Regions from separate parts of the Homo sapiens genome. Here region 2 is linked to region 1. Evidence: fine-mapped expression QTL. A gene starts in region 1. The other region holds a variant in brackets. All regions are shown on one strand. Distances are between the middles of the regions.

What was found.
Region 2: its variant is fine-mapped to the expression of RABIF in whole blood (TOPMed, PIP above 0.99).

What each region holds. Positions count from the first base shown.
Region 1 is chr1:202,884,777-202,892,776 of GRCh38, reverse strand. It overlaps RABIF (RAB interacting factor), which reads left to right and starts at 3,628. Exons shown (of 2, transcript NM_002871.5): 1 at 3,628-3,804. The coding sequence starts at 3,679. It overlaps KLHL12 (kelch like family member 12), which reads left to right. Exons shown (of 12, transcript NM_021633.4): 12 at 118-1,657. The coding sequence ends at 244. RefSeq lists enhancers at 3,593-3,862, 7,593-8,000 and a silencer at 3,933-4,222.
Region 2 is chr1:202,854,376-202,871,256 of GRCh38, reverse strand. It overlaps the pseudogene TUBA5P and the pseudogene ACTG1P25. Among named protein-coding and RNA genes, the nearest start is that of RABIF, 26 kb to the left of the region's middle. RefSeq lists a silencer at 9,560-9,609. The variant T/CT (reference allele first, on the strand shown) is at 7,646.

The DNA of each region.
Region 1 (8,000 bases):
ATTCCCTCCTGGGCTTAAGCAATCCTCTTACCTCAGCCTCCTGCATAGTTGGGATTACAGGCACGTGCCACTGCACGCAGCTGACTCATTTCTTTCTTTTGCTTCTTTCCCACTCAGATATGATGGTAATTCCCTGCTAAGTAGCATTGAATGTTATGACCCTATCATCGACAGCTGGGAAGTCGTGACATCCATGGGAACCCAGCGCTGTGATGCTGGTGTTTGTGTTCTCCGCGAGAAGTGACCATTGTTGGAGCACCATCCAGAGCTAGTGACCAGTCCAGTGGACAGTTAGTGGGAGAATCAAAAATCCTTTCCAGAATGTCTGTTTCTCACTATGTGCACCGGGTGATTACAGGCACCAGTGCAGTGATGATTGTACTTATTTGACACATACTCCCCGTCGTCCTGGTTCTTGTTCCTGAGAAGGGTGGGTAACAGATATTCCAGGAAAAAGAATGCACATTGAATGGATGTGAGAGACCACATTGCCTCTCCCACTGCTTTGGGGAGCACTTTCCTGTCATTTCTAACTTACCACATGCTTGGTGTACTATATGTATGTTGTGCCTCATATGTTGCAAAGAACTAAGGTGAGTATAGCCTACTAGATATGGGCAATATCCAGCCTAGATGATTGGAAAGATACCAGTTTAAGTAAACTTGGTAAAATCCAAGTCTTTTTTTTTTTTTCCAGGAACAACTACATTTTCTCATATACAGGTAGCTAGGGGCAACACAGTTCCATTCTAGAGGGAAACAAAAGGGAGAGCCCCACAAAACTTTGGGGACAAGGGAGAGAGAGACTCATCTGACACTTCTTTTGGAGGTCAGGATTTGTATATCAGAATTGAAGTTAGAATTAAGTGAATTAAACTGAATTTGATTGTGAGTGAACCTAGAACAGCACTGAAGTATTACATAACCTGGAAGACTGAGAAGGGTATATTATTTGAAGGATCTTTTTATTTCCCCGAGGTCTTTCGCACTGGAGACAGCATAAAAGAGTGAACAAATGTTGGGATGAGAGAAGATGACATCAATGTGGGAGTTCAGTATAACTGGGGATAAACTAGAAGAACCTGTGATTTTACAGTCATCTTATTACCTGCCAGGGCTCATCTAGCCATGGCAATGTTTGCCTTGAATGGGGGTGAAAGCCTTTCTTTGTTGGATCAAATACTACTACACTATTACACTTCCACACTATTTATTTGGGGATGGGCTGGGAGTGACAGTAGCCTAGTAGTTCAGCTACCTGATTACTGCCCCATTCTTTTAGAAGCACATGTCTGCCAAGGAGTGGTTTGTACTGCTGTGTTTGGTACATCTAGTCTTTTTTCTGCTATAAGTTTTCCTTACCTGTCCTTTAGTGTAGATTTTATTCATCACAGGACAGAATAATCAAGGACAACCAAAATCCTTTTGTTAGTTTCAGTACCTCAGCTATCAACATTTCTGAGCTACCATTCAATGTTCCTCTGTGTCATGGAGTGAAATTCTTGTTTTGTGGGTATTAGGAGTGTGGGAATGTGATAACCTAAACAACCTTTGCTCTGAAATTCCATTTTTCCCTCTTTCCCTGAGTTGTATTGACCTACAGAGTTAATTTCCTTTGTATTTTTTTAAGAAAATATTAAAAATCAACGGTCTCAAATGCCGAGAGTTTGTGGCTAACCAACATTGCCTTTAGTAGATATTTGGGAGGGAAAGATGTAGGGATCAGCCGTAGCTCCTGTCTCTTCAAGCTGTTCATCTTGTGTGTTTGCCAACTAGTTCCGCTATTTCTATGTTAGACACAGGTAAGAGGTAGCCACTTTACACTTTGGAGATTCTCATCAGTAAAATATTTACCTGATTTGCCATATTCATTAGCCCCTCTGACGCTTGGAGTTACTTGAAAAAGGAATACAGAAAAGATCTTGAATTCACTTAGCACGCGCTTGAATTTCAGGGTTTCAGTCACACCAGTCCTTTTTTCCATTTGCTTTGAATTGTGGCATGTGATATAAACAGCTATGCGGAAGGCCTGCAAAACTGAAACAGTCCTGATGCTTCCAGAGCAAAAGGAAGGAGGAGCCACATGAGGAAGTTATTTTCCTTAAAAGATGCCTACCAACTTTGGCAGATGGATTGTGCATGCTAATTAAACCAAAGCCTATAAAACGTGACTTTTCCTATCTCAGGAAGAGATCCAGGGGAGGGTGAAGGACTGATGGCTCCTATGCTGTCTTCAGTGCTGACTAATGAGTTTCAGACCAACTTCACAAATAGTTCATACACTGAAGCCACAATGGTATGTTCTACAGAAAAATCAACACGTAAAACAGCTCCTTTTTCACTCTTCACAATCGTACACACTTTCATGTGCTCACATACATACACAGAGATACCCCTAATTTGGTGGTTCATCTTATTTTTTTAAGCTCCCATAACTGGCAACCAGCTACTTAGTTATCTAACCTGGGAAAACCAGCAGTTGCTTTGTGTCACCCCCATCACAATACAGACATCCAGCTAGTTTCTAAGTTCTGTACAATTTTAATTGTTTCAAGTCCATTCCCATATCTTTGTTCCCTCTGCTAGCTTCAGGGCCTTTCTGAGCTAGACTGATGAGGTAATAGCTACCTGATACCTTACCTCTACTCTTTTTCCTCTCTTCAATCTAGCCCCTCTATTTATTCATAGGTTATCTTTCTGAAGCACAGATAGGATCATTACAGTGCTTAACATACAGCAGACAGTAAATATCGAACAGTTATTTCTGGCCTAAAATTCCACAGATTCCCATTGTTCATGTTATTAATGTTAAATTCCTTAGCATGACATTAAAGCCATGGAGCTCTGGGCCCACTCTGCCTTACCTACCTCTACTACCACTTCTCCCCACGTGTAATGTGGGTCAGCCACAGTGGTCTACTAACCATTCCTAAATTTGTTCTCACCCTTGTTCATATATAATACTGTTCTGTCTGAAATAATCTTGCTTTCCTGACAATCCTAGTTAATTAAGAGCAGTGGCTTTAGAGTTGTGCTGCAACCTTTCTGATCTTTACCTTTCTCATTTTGTGCACAAGCGTGCCGACCCCGTAAGGAAACTGATGATTTAGTAAGTTTCTAAAGGCGCTTTGACACATTTTGCCGCATAGTAAATGGTCACAATGAGTAGAAGAGACCAGCAATTAAAGTTTCCACGCATCTTTTTCCAATACCGAAAAGATACATGCCCCTCTAAGTAGTTTCCTATAGAAGAAGCTAATGTGGCTAAAACTTGATGGGAAGTCCGACCCAGATTCCCTTCATATTGCCCCCAATAATGTCCCCATTTATTCAGGAGACTAAATTCAGATCCCAGAAAACTAAACAGTAAGGTCAACCTAATGATTTGTCTAGGTTTTAAGTGAAGCCCAGTGGCCAGGTGGGTATGGAGATGTGTCACTGGTGCCAAGAAGTGTCCCTGTCACAAAGCCTGCCGACACCTAGCCACTTAGGTTAGGCAATGAATGAAGGCGCTTGCGCAGTAGAGTCCAGAGCGGGGAAGCGGGCGCCTGCGCAGAGACATAGTGACCGTCCGCTCGCCGCCCCGCCTCTGCCAAGCCGCGCCAGCGCAGTGAATAACGAGCCAGCAGAGACAGCGTCTGCGCAGCCGTGGCTGAGGAGCCTGTGGCGGCAGCGGCGATGGAACCAGCGGAGCAGCCGAGCGAGTTAGTGTCAGCCGAGGGCCGAAACCGGAAGGCGGTGCTGTGCCAGCGTTGCGGCTCCCGGGTGCTGCAGCCAGGGACCGCTCTCTTCTCTCGCCGACAGGTAGGGAGGCAGGTTGGAGGCCGTTTACACCCACAGTCTCCCCCGACGAGCCGCCGCAGTCAGAATCTGAACCCCGGCTCTTCAATTTCCGGCAACCGCGCCCTCCTCGCGCGGCCTTAAGCCCCGCCCCTCGGGCCTCAGCTCGGCGAGGCTCCGCCCCTGGGGCCGCTGAAGGCTAGGGAGGGAACCGGGTCCCGCCCCGGCATCTTTTGCCGCGGGAACCCTTCCCTGGGCCACCCGGCCCAGCCAGCCCGGCCCTCTGCCCCCGGGGGGGCTTCGAGCGCGGGCCGTGCGCCCCGCCGCCGTCCAAGGCCGGTGCTCCGCGGGCGCGTGGAAGGGAGGCGCCCCATTCCGGCTCTCGGAGCTCCCGCCAGCTTGCAGGACCCGGCAGGTGCCTCTCGGCCGCCGCTCACCGCGGGTGTTGCTGGGTTCCTTTCCCACTTTAGACCTCACCCGCCAGTCCTGAATTCACCGTCTCATTTATGACGGGCACCTATCTGCTCCACAGAGGATCCCCAGGAACAACTGGTGTTGGGGACGCGGCAAAATAACCCTGGTAACCTACCCACTTTACCGAGGCACTGGAAGCCTGTGGTTTTCCAGATGAATCATATTTCAAGTGCAGTAGATCCCTGACGTCCTGGAAGTAAATTTCGAAGAAAAACTTTTTTTTTCCCTTCAGTTTAGGGATTTTAATACCCTTCCTACCACCATCATCGCAAGTGAGAAAGTTGAAAAAAAAATTTATTTCGGTAAACTGTGTTGAAGTGCAAATATAATGTCATTTCAACCATAGACACATCCTATCATTCAAAATTATTTCTAAAAATATGCAGATCATTTTATTATTTCACGTGCTTGAACAGATGGTGAAGTGTAATGTCTAGTAGAAGAGCAAGAGGTACCCATTCGTCCAAAACAGCCTTTCATCAAAGGAGGAAAAAAGGGAATCTGTGTCTGTTGTTTTGTAGGTATTTTGATGACTTTTGATCTAGAGATTGGTGGAGGTCCCGGGGTTCTTTTAAGACTTCAAGGTTTAGGAGTAGAGTTCTCAATTAATTTTACGAAGTTAGTGGCATTATGGAGTCAGTGGAAAGAACATGGATCTTGGAATTGAAACATACATGGAATTGAGTCCTGACTATCATTCATTAACATTAAAACAGTTAGGCTGGGCGCGGTGGCTCATGCCTGTAATCCCAGCACTTTGGGAGGCCGAGGCGGGCGGAACACCTGAGGTCAGGAGTGTGAGACCAGCCTGGCCAACATGGCAAAACCCCATCTCTACTAAAAAAAAAAATACAAAAATTAGTTGGGGGTGGTGGCACAAGCCTGTAATCCCAGCTACTCGGGAGGCTGAGGCAGGAGAATCGCTTGAACCTGGGAAGCCGAGGTTGTAGTGAGCGGAGATTGAGTCACTGCACTCCAGTGTGGGCAACAGAACGAGACACCATCTCAAAAAAAAAAAAAAAAAGTTATTTAACCTCCATGAGATGCAGGTTGCTATTGTGTAAAACAGGGGTGTCCAGTCTTTTGGCTTCCCTGGGCCATATTGGAAGACTTGTCTTGGGCCACACAAAATACACTAATGATAGCTGATGAGCTTAAAAAAAAATTGCAAAAAAAAAAATTTTTCATAATGTTTTAAGAAAGTTTCCGAATTTGTGTTGGGCCGCATTCAAAGCCGTTCTGAGCCATATGCCGGCCGCGGGTTGGACAAGCTTGTAAAATGAAGATGATGATAGAGGGAAGAATTTGTATAAAAGCACTTAGCACTGTGCCGAGTATATAGCCCATAATATAGGTTAGTTCCCATACTCCTTTTCCATGGCAAGGTTTTGTCTAATTTTATAAACTGACATAAATTAAGAGACTTCTAAATGGAGTTTATAGTTTGTTTTAAAATTCTTAATTGTTTTTTCTTTAAAAAAAAAAAAAAAAAACAAAACATAGCCCACACCTGTAATCCCAGCTCTTTTGGGAAGCTGAGTTGGGCGGATCACTTGAGGTCAGGAGTTCAACAACTGCCTGGCCGACATGGTGAAATCCCATCTCTACTAAAAATACAAAAATTATCTGGGCGTGTTGGTGGGCACCTGTAATCCCAGCTACTTGGGAGGCTGAGGGGCAAGAATCGCTTGAACCCGGGAGGCAGAAGTTCAAGATTGCACCACTGCACTCCAGCCTGAGTGACAGAGCGAGACTCCGTCTCAAAAAAAAAAAAAAAGAAAAAAGAAAAAAACATAGACGCGCTCACTGTATTGCTCAGGCTGGTCTCCAACTCCTGGGCTCAAGTGATTCATCCACCTTGGCCTCCCAAAGTGGTGGGATTACAGGTATGAGCCACCGTGCCTGGCCAGGATCTTTCTTTTGTTTTGTTTTGTTTTTGAGATGGAGTCTCCCTCTGTCGCCGAGGCTGGAGTGTGTGGCATGATCTCGGCTCACTGCAACCTCCTCCTCCCGGGTTCAAGTGATTTTCCTACCTCAGCTTCCCAAGTAGCTGGGATTACAGGTGCACGCCACCATGCCCAGCTAATTTTTGTATTTTTAGTAGAGATGGGGTTTCAGCATGTTGGCCAGGTGAGCCGCTCCGCCCGGCAGGACCTACCTTCTGCCCTGCCCTGCCTTCCCCTCCCTCCCTTCCCTTCCCACTCCCCTCCCATCCCCTCCCCCTCCCCTCCCTTCCCCCGCTTTCCTTTCCCCCCTTCCCTTCCCACCTCCCCTCCCCTCCCCGTTCCCGTTCCCCGTTGTGCTCTGTCAAAAGCATGACTCACTGCAGCTTCCAACCAGTCAAAATTCTTAATTCTTGTTTGATACTATTTTAAACTGATTTTGCCAAAAATTGTGTGAGCAAATTAAATTATATATGTTACATTTCTTTTTGTTTCTCAACGAACACAGTGGTCCCTATTCTAGAAAGGGGCCTAAGAATTTTTTTAATGCATTTTATGTGTTTTAAAATGTTTTCCCTCTTTTAAAAAGGCAAAAAGGTGGGTTTTTTTTTTTTTGGGTTGTGTTTTTTAACAATGGCTTCAGTATTTCTGGAAATTTCCTATTTCTTGAGAAAGAACTGTTGGAAGAATCCTATCCCTTTTTCTGGACTCAAGCAACTCAGCTGTAATCCAACCCAGTGTTCTCCTTACTGTCAGTCCTAATTGTTTTCTCCTTTCTTTTCTCAAATACTAATTTGAGCAAAAATATAACTTCTAGGACATGATGTAAATAGAAGGTAGAAAATTTCATGGAAGATTCTAACCAGTTATTTATTAGTCCTTTCCCTGCTCTGTGTCACACATTTTAAGGTGGGGAAAAACAGTTCCATCCTTAGAGAGAACAAGCAGCTTCTGAGATGCTGAGCTCCTTAACTAAAGCTTTGGGGTAAACCCCGTAAAGGTTCGGGGTAGCTCTTTTTTCTCATAACTGTGACATATTGCAGATAAACCACCATTAGGGCAATTACAGCAGGGCTGTTACTCATCTCTGCAGGTGTTAAAGGAGCGCTCCCAGCCGTTAAGCCTGCAGAAAGGTGTAAGGAGTCTGGCTAGAGGTGGCCTACAGCTTTCTCTCTCGCTCCACCCAGTGCAATAGCCTAGTAGTCTGCAGATGGGAACAGTTGGAGAACTAGATTGCCAGTCCTACCTTTGAGGTGATCCAGGGCCTAGGAGTTACTGTATCTTATATTCCAGAGTTCTTTAGTCTAAAGTAGTGTGTTTCTCGATTCCTCCCGCATCCCCAGACCTCCAGAGGACATGTAGCAATATCTGGAGACATTTTTAGTTGTCAGAATGAGGGAGGTGTGCTACTGGCATCTAGTGGGTAGAAGCCAGGGTTGCTGTTAAGCATCTTTTTCTTTCTTTTCTTTTTTTTTTTTTTTTTTTTTTTTTTTGAGATAGAGTCTCACTCTGTTGCCCAGGCTGGAGTGCAGTGGCACGATCTCTGCTCACCTAACCTCCGCCTCCTGGGTTCAAGAGATTCTCCAGTCTCAGCCTCCCGAGTAGCTGGGATTACAGGTGCCCCCACCATGCCCAGCTAATTTTTTGCATTTTTTTAGTAGAGATGGGGGTTTCGCCATGTTGGCCAGGCTGGTCTTGAACTCCTGACCTCAGGTGATCCGGCCACCTCAGCCTCCCAAAGTGCTGGGATTACAGGCATGAGCCACTGTGCCCGGCCCGAACAATGATGTATTTTGCTCAGGA
Region 2 (16,881 bases), 26 kb after region 1:
TGCCTGCAAGAACAAACTCCTATGACAGCAGAACGTCCAGCTGTCCCAATATTGCATAACAATATATGTTTTAAAAATAGTTATAGTTATGCTTTGATGTACTTACTCAAATGCCAAGGATAACTTTCTTTTCTTTTCTTTTTTGAGACGGAGTTTGGCTCTTGTCACCCAGGCTGGAGTTCAGTGGCGTGATCTTAGCTCACTGCAACCTCTGCCTCCCGGGTACAAGCGATTCTCCTGCCTCAGCCTCCCAAATAGCTTGGAATACAGGCGCACAAACTGCTGGCATTACAGGCATGAGCCACTGCACCTGGCTGAGATTTTGTTTTTCTTATACAATTCAGTCAGTTCTAGATAAAATGGAAACATTAGAGAATAATTTGACACTGAGAAAAAAAATGTGAAAAAGGCTTCTTAAAAACCAAACTTCCAGCCGGGTGTGGTGGCTACCGCCTGTAATCCCGGCACTTTGGGAGGTCAAAGTGGGTGGATCACTTGAAGCCAGGAGTTTGAGACCAGCCTGGCCAACATGGTGAAACCACATCACTACTGAAAATACAAAAATTAGCCTGACATGGTGGTGCATGTCTGTAATCCCAGCTACTCGGGAGGCTGAGGCAGGAGAATTGCTTAAGCCTGGGAGATGGAGGTTGCAGTGAGCCATGATCACACCACTGCACTCCAGCCTGGGCCACAGAGTGAGACTCCATCTCAGAAACACCACCACCAACAACAAACAAACAAACACAAACCCTAAAAAATCCAAACTTCCATAAAAACTTTAACAAAAATTTTGGTCCATAGCTTTCCTTGGATTACTTGATGGATGTCTGAGTTATATCCAATTAAGAAAAGTTTATGATACGGAAAAACATGTTTCTAGGATTGTGGAATGGTTTTCTCTATAAAATGCTTCTTAAGTTTTCAGATTCACAGACAAGTGAGTGCCCTTTGCGTTCCTTCCCTTCCCTGTGTTGTTCCTTTTCCTGCTGAGCCTTCTGAGCCCCAGGAGTCATGGGATGCTCATGTTTCTTTATATTCACTGGGAACTGGGGGTTAGAGGCCCCTACCCAGGGCTGTTGGATAAATTGAGGTTCAGAGGCATATTTGCCAGCACCTATTGGTTCTCAGTCCCCCTTGTCCCCTTTCTCAGCTGCATATTTGCTGTCTATGCCTCGCTAGTGACACACGCGATCCTCGGCTTGTATGCCCTAAGCTTACGCCTGTCATTTTCCTTCTGGTCATGATGGTTTTCATTCTTTGGGTTGTTTAATTCAGCATCTCTCTGGGTGGCATTGGAGGGCAAAAGCCTCCTGAGAACTAGTCTTATTGAGAAAAAGAATAATGTTGTCTAATTCAGAAGCCATCTAAGGGTCAATTCAAATTATGGACTTGAAAATGGTTACTTGGGCTGGGCGCGGTGGCTCACGCCTGTAACCCAGCATTTTGGGAGGCTGAGGTGAGCGGATCACCTGAGGTCAGAAGTTCAAGACCAGCCTGACCAACATGGTGAAACCCTGTCTCTACTAAAAATACAAAATTAGCTGGGCGTGGAGGCGCATGCCTGCAATCCCAGCTACTCGGGAGGCTGAGGCAGGAGAATTGCTTGAACCCGGGAGGCGGAGTTTGCAGTAAGCTGAGATGGCACCATTGCACTCCAGCCTGGGCAACAAGAACAAAACTCCATCTCAAAAAAAAAAAAAAAGAAAGAAAAAGAAAAAAAGAAGAAAATGGTTACTTGGCTGGGTGTGGTGGCTCACACCTGTAATCCCAGCACTTTGGGAGGCCAAGGCAGGCAGATCACCTGAGGTCAGGGTTCAAGACCAGCCTGACCAACATGGAGAAACCCCCTCTCTACTAAAAATACAAAATTAGCTGGGCATGGTGGCGCATGTCTGTAATCCCAGCTACTCAGGAGGCTGAGGCAGGACAGACACTTGAACCCAGGAGGCGGAGGTTGTGGTGAGCCGAGATCGCACCATTGCACTCCAGCTTGGGCAACAAGAGCGAAACTCCGACTCAAAAAAAAAAAGGTTACTTATGGCTGGGCACGGTGGCTCATGCCTGTAATCCCAATACTTTGGGAGTCCGAGGCAGGAGGATCACCTGAGGTCACAGGTTGGAGACCAGCCTGGCCAACATAGTGAAACGCCGTCTCTACTAAAAACACAAAACTTAGCCGAGCATGGTGGCAGGCGCCTGTAATCCCAGCTACTCAGGAGGCTGAGGCAGGAGAATCGCTTGAACCCGGGAGGCAGAGGTTGCAGTGAGCCGAGATCATGCCACTGCACTACAGCCTAGGCGACAGAGCAAGACTCCATCTCAGGGAAAACAAAAAAAAGCTGGGCGTGATGGCTCATGCCTGTAATCCCAGCACTTTGGGAGGCCAAGGTGGATGGATCACCTGAGGTTGGGAGTTCAAGACCAGCCTGATCAACATGGAGAAACCCCATCTCTACTAAAAATATAAAATTAGCTGGATGTGGTGGTGCATGCCTATAATCCCAGCTACTTGGGAGGCCGAGGCAGGAGAATCGCTTGAACCCGGGAGGTGGAGGTTGTGGTGAGCCAAGATTGTGCCATTGCACTCCAGCCTAGGCAACAAGAGTGAAACACCATCTCAAGAAAAGAAAATGGTTACTTATGAAAAAAGGTAGAAAGGAACCAGTAAATAGGGGAGAGAGATGAGGAAAGTTTTGGAAATGAAGATGTATTTTTGGTAAGGCAAGTTATAAAGAGGATAATTTTATATAAAAAAAGGTAGCCGGGCATGGTGGCTCACACCTGTAATCCCAGCACTTTGGGAAGCCGAGGCAGGCAGATCACCTGAGGTCAGGAGTTCAAGACCAGCCTGGCCAACATGGTGAAACCCCATCTGCACTAAAAATACAAAAATTAGCCGGGAGTGGTGGCACGTGCCTGTAGTCCCAGCTACTCGGGAGGCTGAGGCAGGAGAATAGCTTGAATCCAGGAGGCAGAGGTTGCAGTGAGCCGAGATCGTGCCATTGCACCCCAGCCTGGGGGACAGAGTGAGAGACTCTGTCAAAAAAAAAAAAAAAAAAAAAAAGCTTTAACCCTTTAAATCTCAGTTTTTTTAGTAACCAAAATCCTAATAAACATAGCATAGGAATTATCTTGATAAAACGTAAACTCTTGGAGTTTTATTTTCTTGTTTTTTTGTTTTGTTTTGTTTTTTGTTTTTTTTGAGATGGAGTTTTGTTCTTGTTACCCAGGCTAGAGTGCAATGGTGTGATCTTGGCTCACTGCAACCTCCGTCTCCTGGGTTCAAGTGATTCTCCTGCTTCAGCCTCCCTAGTAGCTGGGCTTACAGGCATGCGCCACCACACCCAGCTAATTTTGTATTTTTAGTAGAGACGGGGTTTCACCATGTTGGTCAGGCTGGTTTCAAACTCCTGACCTCAGGTAATCCACCTGCCTCAGCCTCCCAAAATGCTGGGATTAGAGGCATGAGCCACTGTGCCCAGCCTGGTTCATTTTTTAATACTGCCTCTGGCATACCTTGACAAAAAAGGAGGAATATAAACTAAAAAATAAAACCCTAAGCCCCCCAACAGAGCAGACCCCCCTCTTGGCCAAAGAGAATTTTAAAAATACCCTGAAAAAGGCCAGGTGTGGTGGCTCACACGTGTAATCCCAGCACTTTGGGAGGCCGAGGCGGGTGGATCACGAGGTCAGGAGATCGAGACCACCCTGGTTAACATGGCGAAACCCGGTCTCTACTAAAAATACAAAAAATTAGCCGGGCGTGGTGGCGGGCGCCTGTAGTCCCAGCTATTCAGGAGGCTGAGGCAGGAGAATGGCGTGAACCCAGGAGGTGGAGCTTGCAGTGAGCTGAGATCACACCACCGCACTCCAGCCTGGGTAACAGAGCAAGACTCCATCTCAAAGAAAAAAAAAATACCCTGAAAAACTAGTTCAGGTTATGATGGGAAGCTGGGGGTCAGACATACCTCACTACACATTTCCCCTCTTGGGATTCAGATACAACTGGCCAGCATTAACATTAAAATAGAAATCATAAAACTTACAGAACAGATTATTTATGGCAATAAGATATCAAACTATAAACAGGATCTATGACCAGGTGTGGGGTTAAGTCTTCACCGCAACGTAAACAGAGTCATATGTTACATGCATGTTTGTTCAATATACCTGTGTCAGGCAGGCCACTGCCATAAATATTCGTAGCTCCCCTATTCAACCAGGAGACTTAGTCTTATTAAAAACTTGGAAAGAAGGCTGGGCACAGTGGCTCACGCCTGTAATCCTAGCACTTTGGGAGGCTGAGGTGGGTGCATCACCTGAGGTCAGGAGTTCAAGACCAGCCTGGCCAACATGGCAAAACCCCGTCTCTACTCAAAATACAAAAATTAGCCAGGTGTGGTGGTGGGTACCTGTCATCCCAGCTACTCAGGAGGCTGAGGCAGGAGAATCATTTGCACTGGGAGATGGAGGTGGCAGTGAACCAAGATCATGCCACTGTACTCCAGCCTGGGTGACAGAGGAAGACTCTGTTAAAAAAAAAAAAAAGAAAAAAAAAAAAACCTTGGAAAGGAGGATCTCCCCAAAATCAATTACAACTAAAATGAAAGGGCCCTTATTGGGGAGTATTGTTAAGCACGGCACCCCCACTGCTGTTAAGCCTCGGGGACTCACTAGCTGAGTACACCTGTCCAAGATTAAACCTGTTTTTTACAAGTCCCCACAGGCACCTGAGAAAGACACCACAACCTACACTTGTGAACCCCTAGAAGATCTAAAGCTGTTGTTTTGCAAAGAAAGAGATAAGTAACATCCTCAGTCCCTCCTACAGGTACTCAACCTTCTTAACAACTCCCATCCCATACAGGTTTGCACCCCCAACGGATTATACCTGTGGCTATGTGGTCATCCATTCAATCAGCCTATAAATAACTTGTCTCTCATTTGGGATCATGGAAACCCATGGATACACAGTGTATTGATAATGTTTGGTTCGGGGGTCAATGTATAATAGAACAAGCAAAGCTCTTTAATATATAATTACATAACATCACTCACCTGAGAGCTAAGCAGGCAGCTGGCCTTATATTGGCTGGAGTTGGGGCTGCCAGTGGTTTATTGGCCCCGTAGGGAAAATTTGCCTATCCCAAGACAACTCTTCAAAACTTTACTTCATTCTACAGACTGTCTTATAAAATGGGGGAGGCTTTAGATAAATCAAAACTCTTCCTTGATTCCTTAGCAAATATAGCAATGGATAATAGATTAGCACTACATTACTTATTGGTTGAACAAGGGGGAGTATTTGCACTATAATCAATAAACCCTGCTGCACTCGTGTAAACACCTCCAGTCAAATAGAAGAAGATCTACAGAAAATATATGAACAAACTGCCTGGTTGCATAAATATAACCAAGACATCAATCCCTAGTTCATTACTAGGTAGCTTTATTTTAATCATTGATATGCCCGCCTTCAGTTGGATGCAACATTTGAGTTGTTTTGCTAGGGGTAGTGACAGGCAATGAATAGTGACAGGCCATGTCTTAACTGATCAACCATTAAAAGTGCCCTTGTGGCGAGGCATGGTGGCCCACGCCTGTAATCCCAACACTTTGGGAGGCCAATGCAGGTGGATCACCTGAGATCAGGAGTTCAAGACCAGCCTGGCCAACATGGTGAAACCCTGTCTCTACTAAAAATACAAAAAATCGGCCACCTCGTATCTCCTCATTCCCGACATGTCCTGGGCTCCGAACGTCTCCTGGGGAGTGGCATGATTGAATCAGGGATTCCCTAGCCCCAGGTCCCCTTCTCCGTCATGCTCAGGACGAGGCTGCCCAGTTCTCAGGTGCAGGACAACGGACAGAACTCAAAGTCATCCCTCTGCTCACCTGAGACAAATGAACGTCTGATTGCTTCTTCTGCCCTATTGTTTATGCAAAAATGCAGATCCACTGAGCCAGACTAAGGCATCAGCGTGACTATTCCTTTACTCCCCACTCCATATAAATTGTGTATTCAGTGAAAGGCTGATCAAAGACCCAAAAGAATGCAGCCTTTTGTCTCTTATCTACCTATGACCTGGAAGCCCCCACTTCGAGTTGTCCCGCCTTTCCAGACTGAACCAGTGTACACCTTACACATATTGATTGATGTCTCATGTCTCCCCAAAATGTATAAAACCAAGCTGTGCCCCGACTACCTTTAGCACGTGTTGTCAGAACCTCCTGAGGCTGTGTCATGTCATGAGTGTGTGCTCAACCTTGGCAAAATAAACTTTCTAAATTGATTGAAAAAAAAAATCAGCCAGGTGTGGTGCAGGCACCTGTGATCCCAGCTACTTGGGAGGCTGAGGCAGAGAATTGCTTGAACCCAGGAGGTGGAGGTTGCAGTGAGCTGAGATCATGCCATTGCACTCCAGCCTGGGCAACAGAGCAAGACTCCATCTCAAAAAGATGCTCCCTCCTGAGTCTCACTGTTTTTTTTGCCCTTCTTAGGACCTTTGATAGCTGTCTGGTTATTACCAATCTTAGCACCTTACTTGTTTAACTCCTAGTGAAGTTTGTGTCTTCTAGATTACAATTCTACATAATGCTGGCACAAGGCTTCCAGCCCATCCCATTTTCTGACCCAGGAAATAAAGACACCTTTGGGCCCATAGATGGGGCAAACAGATAATTTTTACTTCTCCAATCTTATGCCCATAAAATCAGCAAGAAGAAGTTACAGAAGAATGACCTTCACACCTCATCTCTCCTTAAGATTAAGAGATCTCTTATAAATCGAGGATTATGTTAGGGAAATAGGAGCATAGGAGAGCCAGGTTGATACCATTTTAAAAAACAATTCCATCTAGGGGCCGGGCACGGTGGCTCACGCCTATAATCCCAGCACTTTGGGAGGCTGAGGCGGGCGGATCACGAGGTCAGGAGATCAAGACCATCCTGGCTAACACAGTGAAACCCCGTCCCCACTAAAAATACAAAAAATTCTCTGGGTGTGGTGGCGGGCGCCTGTAGTCTCAGCTGCTCAGGAGGCTGAGGCAGGAGAATGGCGTGAACCCGGGAGGCGGAGCTTGCAGTGAGCCGAGATCACGCCACTGCACTCCAGCCTGGGTGACAGAGCGAGACTCTGTCTCAAAAAAAAAAAAAAAAACAACTCCATCTAAAACCAGCAAGGCATATTCCTTGCCAGTCACCACCCGTGGCCATAAGATGTTTTGGCTAAGGGAGCAGTTTAGTAATGCCTGCGAGGACAAACTCCTATGACAGCAGAATGTCCAGATGTCCTGACATTGAGTAATAATATATGGTTTTAAGATAGTTATAATCATGCTTTGAGGTACTTACACACTCAAATGCCAAGGATAACTTTCTTTCAATCAACAAACTCCTAAATTGTCATGCTGTCAGCCCACCAGCATGTAGACATAACTTAGCTTTAACATGGTTAAGACCCCTACATAAGAAGAGTTTAAAACAGGGATGGCACGTTCCTCCTCTTGCTTTCTAAGGACACCTTACTCTGTAACTGAGTAGCTTTCAATAAACTACCTCTTACTGTGCACTCTGTGACTCGCCTTGAATTCCTTCCTGCGTGAGATCCAAGAACCCTCTCTTGGGGTCTGGATTGGACCCC[T/CT]TTTTCCAGCAACAATGAGACTCTTTGAATTTTGGAATATTTTAAATTCCTGAAGAGGTATGTGAAAATGGTGTGCCTGTAATGGCAAAGGAGTTAAGTAGGGTGATATAGAGTAGAGGAGGAGGAAAAGTTAGAAATAAAACTCTAAGATAGAAGGCAGTCTGGATAATAGAAATAACTCCAAACAGCTTATAAGAGGATTAGTTTTCATCAGTTTGATGTAAAGAAGTGCACTGCCAATGGCGGGGATGGGGGATTGTGCAGCTTCCATAAATAACACTGAATGTCACTGTTTCAAATGTATTTATAATCCCTGGGTTAGAGTCAACTCAGGAATGGAAAGACATTTTTAACTGGCTGACTCTACCAGCAGGTGGAATGAGTGCTTCATGAGGTGAGGCAAGCAAGAGATGATAGTGTTGAGTTTATGATGTTTTGAGTTTATTACTAGGTAGCTTTATTTTAATCATTGATAGGCCTGCCTTCAGTCGAAGGCAACAACTCAAATGCAACATTTGAGTTGTTTTGCTAGGGGTAGTGACAGCCAATGAATAGCCGTGTCTTAACTCTATATACATGAGGTTTCAAAGCACTTATTTGGATGTTTGCCCACATTCTCTCACCTTATCCCCTAACCAGAGGCGTCTACTTTAGAGCTGGCAGCCTCATGAAGCCCATTAACAAGGATTGAGACCAAAGAATACTTTACAGACTTTGAAGTTAACCTCTGCACTCTGGACTTAAACCTTCTTGAGTCACCTGACCAAGCATTTCGTTTCAAAACATTTCAGGAAAGTTTTGAATGACATGGCTAGAGTCTTGTGTAAAAATGGGTGCAGGCATCCAGGGGACAGCTGGTCTGATGTCACAATGGCCAGTGACAGGGTCTTCCTGAGTTCTATCAGCAGAAAGTCATATCAGCTGCAGATTTTCCTCAGGTAATTCAAGTCTCCAAGCCTGATTCTATACAAACTGGATGCAATCACCTGTCCACTGGGAAGTGGGGATGAAGAGGAGATGGCGATGCTTTGGGTTCCTCCGGAATGTGCCTCACAAATACTAAGGGTAATCACTGGGCGGGGTGGCCAATCATTTGATAAACCAAACACCAATTAACCCTCCCAAAAAGAAAGGAGCTAATTTGTTACACTTAGATATTTCGAAGTAAAACGTCTCAGCTAAGGAAAAGTTTGGAAAAAGGGAAAAGTATGTGAATGCTCTTTAGCATGGAACAATATGAAACCACCACTGGAAAAAAATAATGCACAAGTAACATCTAAGTACTGCTCAGAATGCTGCAGTGATCACATCACTCCTCTGCTCAAAACCCCTCGATGGTTTGAAATTATATGCCAGGGAAATTATATGCAAGCTCTCCAGCCTAGCATTGAAGGCCCCACGCCTCCTTTTCACCTCCACCCTACAGGCCCTCCTCAGTCTGCTTTGGCCAGCCCGGACCCCTTGCTCTTGCAGGAACCCGAGTCACCTGAACCTGAGCAGTTGCTCCGGTCAAAAGGGAAGTAAACGTCAACTACCGGCGCCTGCAATGTCCTTTCCCATGCCTGTTTGCCTATCCTACCCACCCCAGCCGCATTTTGTCCCGCTCTGGAAACTCCCAGCAGTCGGTTCTCATCACAGCATCTTTCCTTCTGCAGTGGTTGCTGAACTTAAGTATGCACCCTTCTCCAAGGCCGACACACTTTTCGAATCAGGTCAGCGGTGTCACTGGTGCAAAGTCCTAAAACTAAAACAGAATGAGGGTGTTTCCCCCAAAGATTCCACCTCGTAGACCCAGCACTCACCCCAATAGAGAAGACGGTCGAGCTGGCCGGGAGGACGCGGACGCCCGACTCTGCCTCCCTTTGGCTTTACCAACTGCCCAATGACCGCTGCGGCGGGGCTGTTTCGTAAGCGGCTGGCCAATAGCGGAGAGAGGGGCGGGCCTCGGTGGGGGCCTGGCCCAGTGAGAGTCGCGCGGGGGACGATCCGATCTCTGTCCAGCTGCGACCCAATGGGAGTCCCCGCCAGGAGACACAACCGGCGGCTCTCCGGGGATTTATAAGGTCCCGCCAGCAACCGCGCGTTGGGATTCGTGGTGTTGCTGGAGACCCGTATGGTGTCTGCAGTCAGCGACCCTCCAACTTCAACTACTGGATCAACCATGGTGAAGGATGCTGTGCGGGGGAGGGTGTCGCACGATGGGGAGGATGCCGGGGGCGCACGGGGGGTCGGTGGGAAGGGCCCGCAGCGCAAAACGGAAGGGCGCCCCGGCAGTCCAGGGTGTGGGGTGGGCTGCGCGGGGATGCCAGGGGTGTTTGGGCGTTCAGGGCGAAGGTGGGCTCTGCAGAAAGCCCGGGGACGCCCGAGGAGTCCCGGCACCACTTTTCTACCCTGCTTCCCCTACGGGAGGCGGTGCGAGCTAGAAACGTTCTGAGCGCCCCAGAAGCGCTGAGGGACTAGGGAGGCTGGCGAGCGGTAAAGCGTGGGCGAGAACATGGTGGGGTCGTTTGTGCGCTGCGCTCAAGGTCGGGCAGCGGAGTCGGCTCTGCGGCAGAGCGCGCTCTGGAGCCTGGAGGGGATCTAGGGCCCGCCCCGTATTTCTCCCGCTGCGGTCCTGGACAAAGAGGTGCCCGCTTGTAGCTGCGGTCCCCGCCTCCCTCTGAGATCACATTGCCGCGCAGGAGGCAAGGTCCAGGATGATTGGGAAGCTCTAACAGGTTTCTCCAGTTCAAAACCTGTTCCCCTGAATGTCTTTGTCTTGGGCGCCCGACTCTGGCCAGAGGTAGAGGTCCTCGCCCTTTGGCCCCATACTTGACTAGGGATTCCTGTAAGCTCTTGGGGCCTTGAAAAGAATGTTCTTGACTCCACTTTTCTCCTGTTTGGTGCCCAAGGACTTGAGGTCCCTCTGTTAAAACTGAGAACTTGACTGGCCAGGCGCGGTGGCTCACGCCTATAATCCCAGCACTTTGGGAGGCCGAAGCGGGCGGACCACCTGAGGTCGGGAGTTCGAGACCAGCCTGACCAACATGGAGAAACCCGTCTCTACTAAAAATACAAAATTGGCCAGCCGTGGTGGCGCATGCCTGTAGTCCCAGCTACTCGGGAGGCTGAGGCAGGAGAATCGCTTGAACCTGGGAGGCTGGGGTTGCGTTGAGCGGAAATCCCGCCATTGCACTCTAGCCTGGGCAACAAGAGCGAAACTCGGTCTCAAAGAAATCAAAGCAAAAAAAAAAAAAAAAAAAAGCCTGAGAACTTGGGGTGGGTACACAGAGGTCCCTGTACCCCCCGGAAACCTCTTGATCCCTGCCTGTGCTCTGAGCCCCCTTAAAGGCTCTGAGGCTGTCTTAGAGGGTAGTTCCTAAGACTGTTAAACTGTTGCCTACTGTCACCCTAGAAGATCCCTTCTACATCTGGGAGGTGCTCGGCCCTTTTAAATTGACCCCCTAGACCGTGGGTTGGGTGAAGGACCAGAAGAAGGGAGGAAGGGTTTATCCATCATAGGAGTTACCTGAGTGAAAAGAGTCGAAAGGTAGGGTGGGTCTTCTGGTCTCCGCTGCGACGCTTAATTTAGGAGTACTGACTTGGATTAGCTTGCCTGTACTGCAGTTGGCAGGGACAGGTGTCTAGAGTAGGTGCCTGTCCCCCCAAAAGGGGAGTTTGTGGGTGAGCTTTCAGAAGGCTAGCTCTAACTCCAAGGCTGCTTCCTCAGTTGATCCACAGGTCTGAACTTAGTCTTCTGCCCTTTTGGGATGTGGGGGAGACAGTTGCTGCCCATGGGAGACCTCCTCTTCTAGGCCCCAGTGCTTGAATCTAGAAGCTCTTGGTGGGCCTGTCTTGGAATACAGGACTCTGAGCTTTCCCAAGGCACCCCAAACAGCAGGGAGGACACTGTGCAGTGGGATTTGGCTATTTGGTTTTGGCTTTCTCTAGTTCCTGCCCCAGAGACCTAGGCATAACCACCTTCTTAAGCTCTGAGTGAATGAAGGAAAATGAGGGCCTGAAGGTGGTTTGGCTTAAAGTATGGGAAGGCTTGGAAAGAGAACCGAGTCTTCTGGACTTTGGTTTTTTGGTTTGTTTTTTGAGATGGAGTCTTGCTCTCTCGCCTAGGCTGTAGTGCAGTGTTGTGATCTCGGCTCACTGCAACCTCTGCCTCCCGGGTTCAAGTGATTCTCCTGCCTCAGCCTCCTGAGTAGCTGGGACTACAGGCGCCCACCACCACATCCGGCTAATTTTGTATTTTTAGTAGAGGTGGGGTTTCACTGTGTTGGCCAGGATGATCTCGAACTCCTGACCTCAGGTGATCTGCCTGCCGTGGCCTCCCAGAGTGCTGGGATTATAGGTATGAGCCACTGCACCCGGCCAGTCGTCTGAACTTTGGACTAGGTAACACTAAGCTTCAGCCTTTAGGGAGGAAAGACAAGGGGTGCTCCCAGGGAAGGCTTTTCAAGTCCCCACCTTTTCACTCCACACCACTCATGCCCTGGCATATTCCTCTGCTCACCCTCACAGTGTGAGTGCATCTCCATCCATGTGGGCCAGGCCGGAGTGCAGATGGGCAATGCCTGCTGGGAGCTGTACTGCCTGGAGCACGACATCCAGCCCAGTGGCACCATGCCCAGCCACAAGGCCCTGGGGAGCAGTGATAACTCCTTCAACACCTTCTTCAGGGAGACCCAGCCTGGCAGGCATGTGTCCTGGGCTGTCTGTGGACCTGGAGCCTGCTGTCATAGGTGAGTGGACGGAGGAGTGGGGGCTCCTTCCCCCAGGCCATAGTTTTTGCTAGCGCCAATGTCAGATGGGAGCTCTGCTTAAGGGGAAAATACTTGAGATGGAAGCAGTCCCCTGCCATGAACAGCATTGAAGTCTGAAGTCTATTGCTTTTGTCTAGACTCTGTCCTCAGAAGAGGTCCTGGGGGCTTCCTATATTGAGAGGAAGATCATTCGCACAACTCTGCCAGGAAACTGCCAGATAGGAGTCAGGGATCAGGCCTAGAACGCAGACTGCAGAAAGGAGCAGATGTAAAAGCAGAAATTTAAAACTTGCTTTTCCCTGTCCTCAGACTCTTGAGGGTGGCCCATTGCGTAAGAAGCAGGGAGCCAAGAACATTCATACTGGCCTCCTGCTTAGCCTTAACTGAAATAGGCCCCCCCCACGTAGGATGTGGGCCTATGTGAACTTGGCTGTTGCTGGCTTCCGGAGGCTTTCCTGCTTCCTCCCTTCTGCATCTGGATCTCCTCTGTTTTCTAATCGTGACAATTCTACCCCTCCTCCATTTTTTAAAGCTGTTATTTTAGATGTTAAATGGTGCACTGGGTTTCTTCATTAGTCTGTATTCTTTTTTTTTTCTTTTCTTTTTCCATGGTGAAAATTTACATTAGTCTGTATTCTTACCCTATTCGAAAGTGAAGTGAGATTCTCCTTAACACCACTCTGATTCCTCACCTAGCACAATGAAGTCGCTGTAGAGGGAAGGGACCACTGAAGGTGCCACCTGCTCTCCCCGTCTCAAGCCCAGGCAGGACCTGGCCTTAGAAGTGGGTCTCTGGTCGGGAGGCTGAGGCAGGAGAATCGCTTGAACCCGGGAGACAGAGGCTGTGGTGAGCCAAGATCGCGTGATTGCACTCCAGCCTGGGCAACAAGAGTGAAACTCTGTCTCAAAAAAAAAAAAAGAAAGAAAAGAAAAAGAAGATGCCGTGCATCATCACTCTGTTGAGCAGTTGTACCTGGGGAGGCTTAGCAGCAAAGGTTCTGGTGTCTGGCGTTCCCTTGGGGAATGAACCAGCTTGTCTTACCTTTGTCCTTTCTTCCCCTCAAGATGGGGTAAGAACTGACATTTATAGGCAGCTGTTCCACCCTGAACAGCTGATATCTGGCGTGGAAGATGCTGCCAACAACTGTGCCCGTGGCCACTACACTGCGGGGAAGGAGATCATCGATTTGGTGCTGGAGTGAATCTGAAAACTGGTGAGCAGGCCTCTGGCACCTACAGGAGGTCGTTGCATCCTTAACCCTCTTCCTGGCTGGGAGGCAACCACAGCCTGTGCTGGTACCTGACATCATTCCTCCAGCCTGTCAGTCCACTCAGCTTCTCTTAAGGGGATATGTGTTTTCTGTCCTGGGTACGGATCTAGGGTTGGAAGCCTGAATAAACTGCTCTGCCTTGAGTTTGTGGACTCAAGCTTCTGCCCTGATGGTTCCTCGCTTTGCCAGGTCTGTCTGATCCAAGCCTTCTTTGACCTTTGATCCATCTCTACAGCAGCTCAGCTTGTTGTTCTTAGACTCCTATGCAGATCTGTCCAGGTGGGAGGGGCTCCTGTTTAGCACTCAACCATTTCACCAGTTCACCCTTCCCCTATCCGAGGCATTGAGAACCACCAGTGAGGCTGCCTGTGAGCCAGGACTTTGGCCCTGTTGCTGTAGGGGGATTGCCTAGACATACTCTCTGCTGCTCGGTAGAGACTGAGGACTTGGAAGTGACCTGAGGAGTAGGATTCTGTGCTCCCTTCCTCAAGAATGAAAATAAAATACCTCCTAGGGGTAGACTTCTTTTATACTGTCACTACCATGTGTCTGGTATAGACTGATGATTTTCTTACCCAAGAAACAGCTGTATCAGCATCACATGGGGTACTTTTTAAAGCTGCAGGTTCCTGGGTTCCAGTCTGAGGTGAGGCCTGGTAATCTGTATGTTCAACAGGATGCCACCACCACTCCCACTCTGCTGTAACTAGGGGGCAGGGCAACAAAACAGAGAGGGCCTGGCTCTCTGAGTGCAAATCATCCGTCCTTCCTCATCCCTACCATTGCGTATGCACAACACTGCCTTTCCAAGTCATCTTTTCCCTAGGAACTCCAAACCTCCTGTAGGTGATCTTTTTTTTTTTTTTCTTTTTTGAGAGAGTTGCTCTGTCGCCTAGGCTGGAATGCCACTAGTGGTGCAGTCACAGCTCACTGCAACCTCTACCTCCTGGGTTCAAGTGGTCCTCCCGCCTCAGCCTCCTGAGTAGCTGGGACTACAGGTGCACACCACAACACCCAGATACTTTTTGTATTTTTTTGTAGAGATGGGGTGTTGCCATCCCAGCACTTTGGTACGCCAAAGTGCTGGGATTACAGGTGTGAACCACCACACCTGGACAGGTGATCTTTTTTCACCTCTATGGAGGCGAAGCAAAAGGACACAAAGGAACTTTCTCGGGGTGATGGGAATTTCTGTATCTCTGTTGGTTTGGTTATATAGGTGTCTACGCATGTCAAATCATTCATTGTATGTCCAAAAGATGCACACACTTAAGTATAAACTATACTTCAAAGTCTTTCTAAAATACAGAAGTGAATGCAAGTATAGTTAGGTAATAGTAGCTTTCAACACAGAAGCTTCCTCAGGAGAAGAGGGTTGGGACGGGTGACATGCCATCTACATCCTTAATGATGTTATTGCCTGCTCCAGACAGACCAGTGCACCATGCTTCAGGGCTTCCTGATCTTCCATAGTTTTGGGGATGGCACTGGCTCAAGTTGGAATTTGCTATCTACCCAGTCCCCCAAGTGTCCATGACAGTTGTAGAACCCTATAACTCTATCTTGACCACCCACACCACCCTGGAGCACTCAGACTGCCTTCATGGTAGACGAGGCCATCTATGATCTCTGCTGCCACAACCTGCGCCCTACCTATACCAACCTGAACTGGCTCATCAGCCAGATTGTGTCCTCCATCACTGCTTCCTTGTGTTTTGATGGTGCCCTCAACGTGGACCTCACAGAGTTCCAGACCAATCTGGTGCCCTACCCTCGCATCCACTTTCCCCTGGTGACCTACTCACCCATTATCTCAGCTAAGAAGGCCTACCATGAGCAGCTCTCAGTGGCAGAGATCTCCAGTGTCTACTTTGAGCCCTCCAATCAGATGGCCAAGTGTGACCCTCGCCACGGCAAGTACATGGCCTGCTGCCTGCTCTACTGTGGAGAAGTGGTGCCCAAGGACGAGAATGCCACCATTGCCACCATTAAAACCAAGCAAATATTTGTTTTGCGGACGTGTCCCACAGGTTTCAAGGCAAGTGGGGGTAAAGGGCAGTTAGCACATGGCCTGTGTACCTGCTAAGACGGGAGCTTCCTGCAGAGGAGGTGTGAGGAACAAATGCACAGGATCTCACTGTCACCCAGGCTGGAGTACACTGGCGTCATCTTGGCTCACTGCAGCCTCGACCTCCTGCACTCAAGCAGTCCTCCTGTCTCAGCCTCCTCAGTAGCTGGGACCACAGGTTTGTGCCACCACACCCTGCTAACTTTGTATTTTTTTGGAGAGGTGGGGCTTCACCATATTGCCCAGGCTGGTCTCAGACTCCTGCGCATGGGTGATCCACCTACAATGGCCTCCCAAAGTGTTACAGGTGTGAGCCACTGTGCCCCGCTAGAGGATTCCTTTAACTGGATAGGTCTCAGCTGGTCTAGAAGCCAGGCCTTTGGACTGTAAGCCAGCGTGGGTTCTACTTGAAAGATTGCCTTGATGAAAGGAAAAGTATCAATTTCATCTTACTTAGCCTGGTAAAAAGGCGTTCCCTAGGGCTGCCAGTCACATGGGGAGAATGGCCTCCTTGTCACTTGTGCTAGGGACATAACCACGTGCTATAGGCTCCTGCTCAGAAGGGAAGGCTTTCAGAAGCCAGAGAGGCCCATTATCAGATGATGGGGAAAGTGCGGATCAGAAGGTCAGAGGCTTCTTGTGTTCTGCGTCTGGATGCGTTCTCTTCCTTTTGCGGTAATAAGGAAGAAGCACGCATTTATGCCCCACCCTGTTATCAGTTGACCTTCCCAGGGTGCTGGGCATATGACCTAGTTTGTTTTTTGGGTTTTGTTGTGGGATAAGACTCCAGAAAGATTAAAGATGGCAGCTGTGGCATTAGAAAACATATATAGCGGCTGGGCGCAGTGGCTCACTTTGGGAGGCCGAGGTGTCCGGATCACAAGGTCAGGAGATGATCGAGACCATCCTGGCTGACACGGTGAAACCCCGTCTCTACTAAAAATACAAAAAAAATTAGCTGGGCATGGCGGCATGCCCCTGTAGTCCCAGCTGTTGGGGAGGCTGAGGCAGGAGAATGGCGTGAACCCGGGAGGCGGAGCTTGCAGTGAGCCAACATCGCGCCACTGCACTCCAGCCTGGGCAACAGAGCAAGACTCCGTCTCAAAAAAATAAAAATAAAAAAAGAAAACATATATAGCTTTCCTG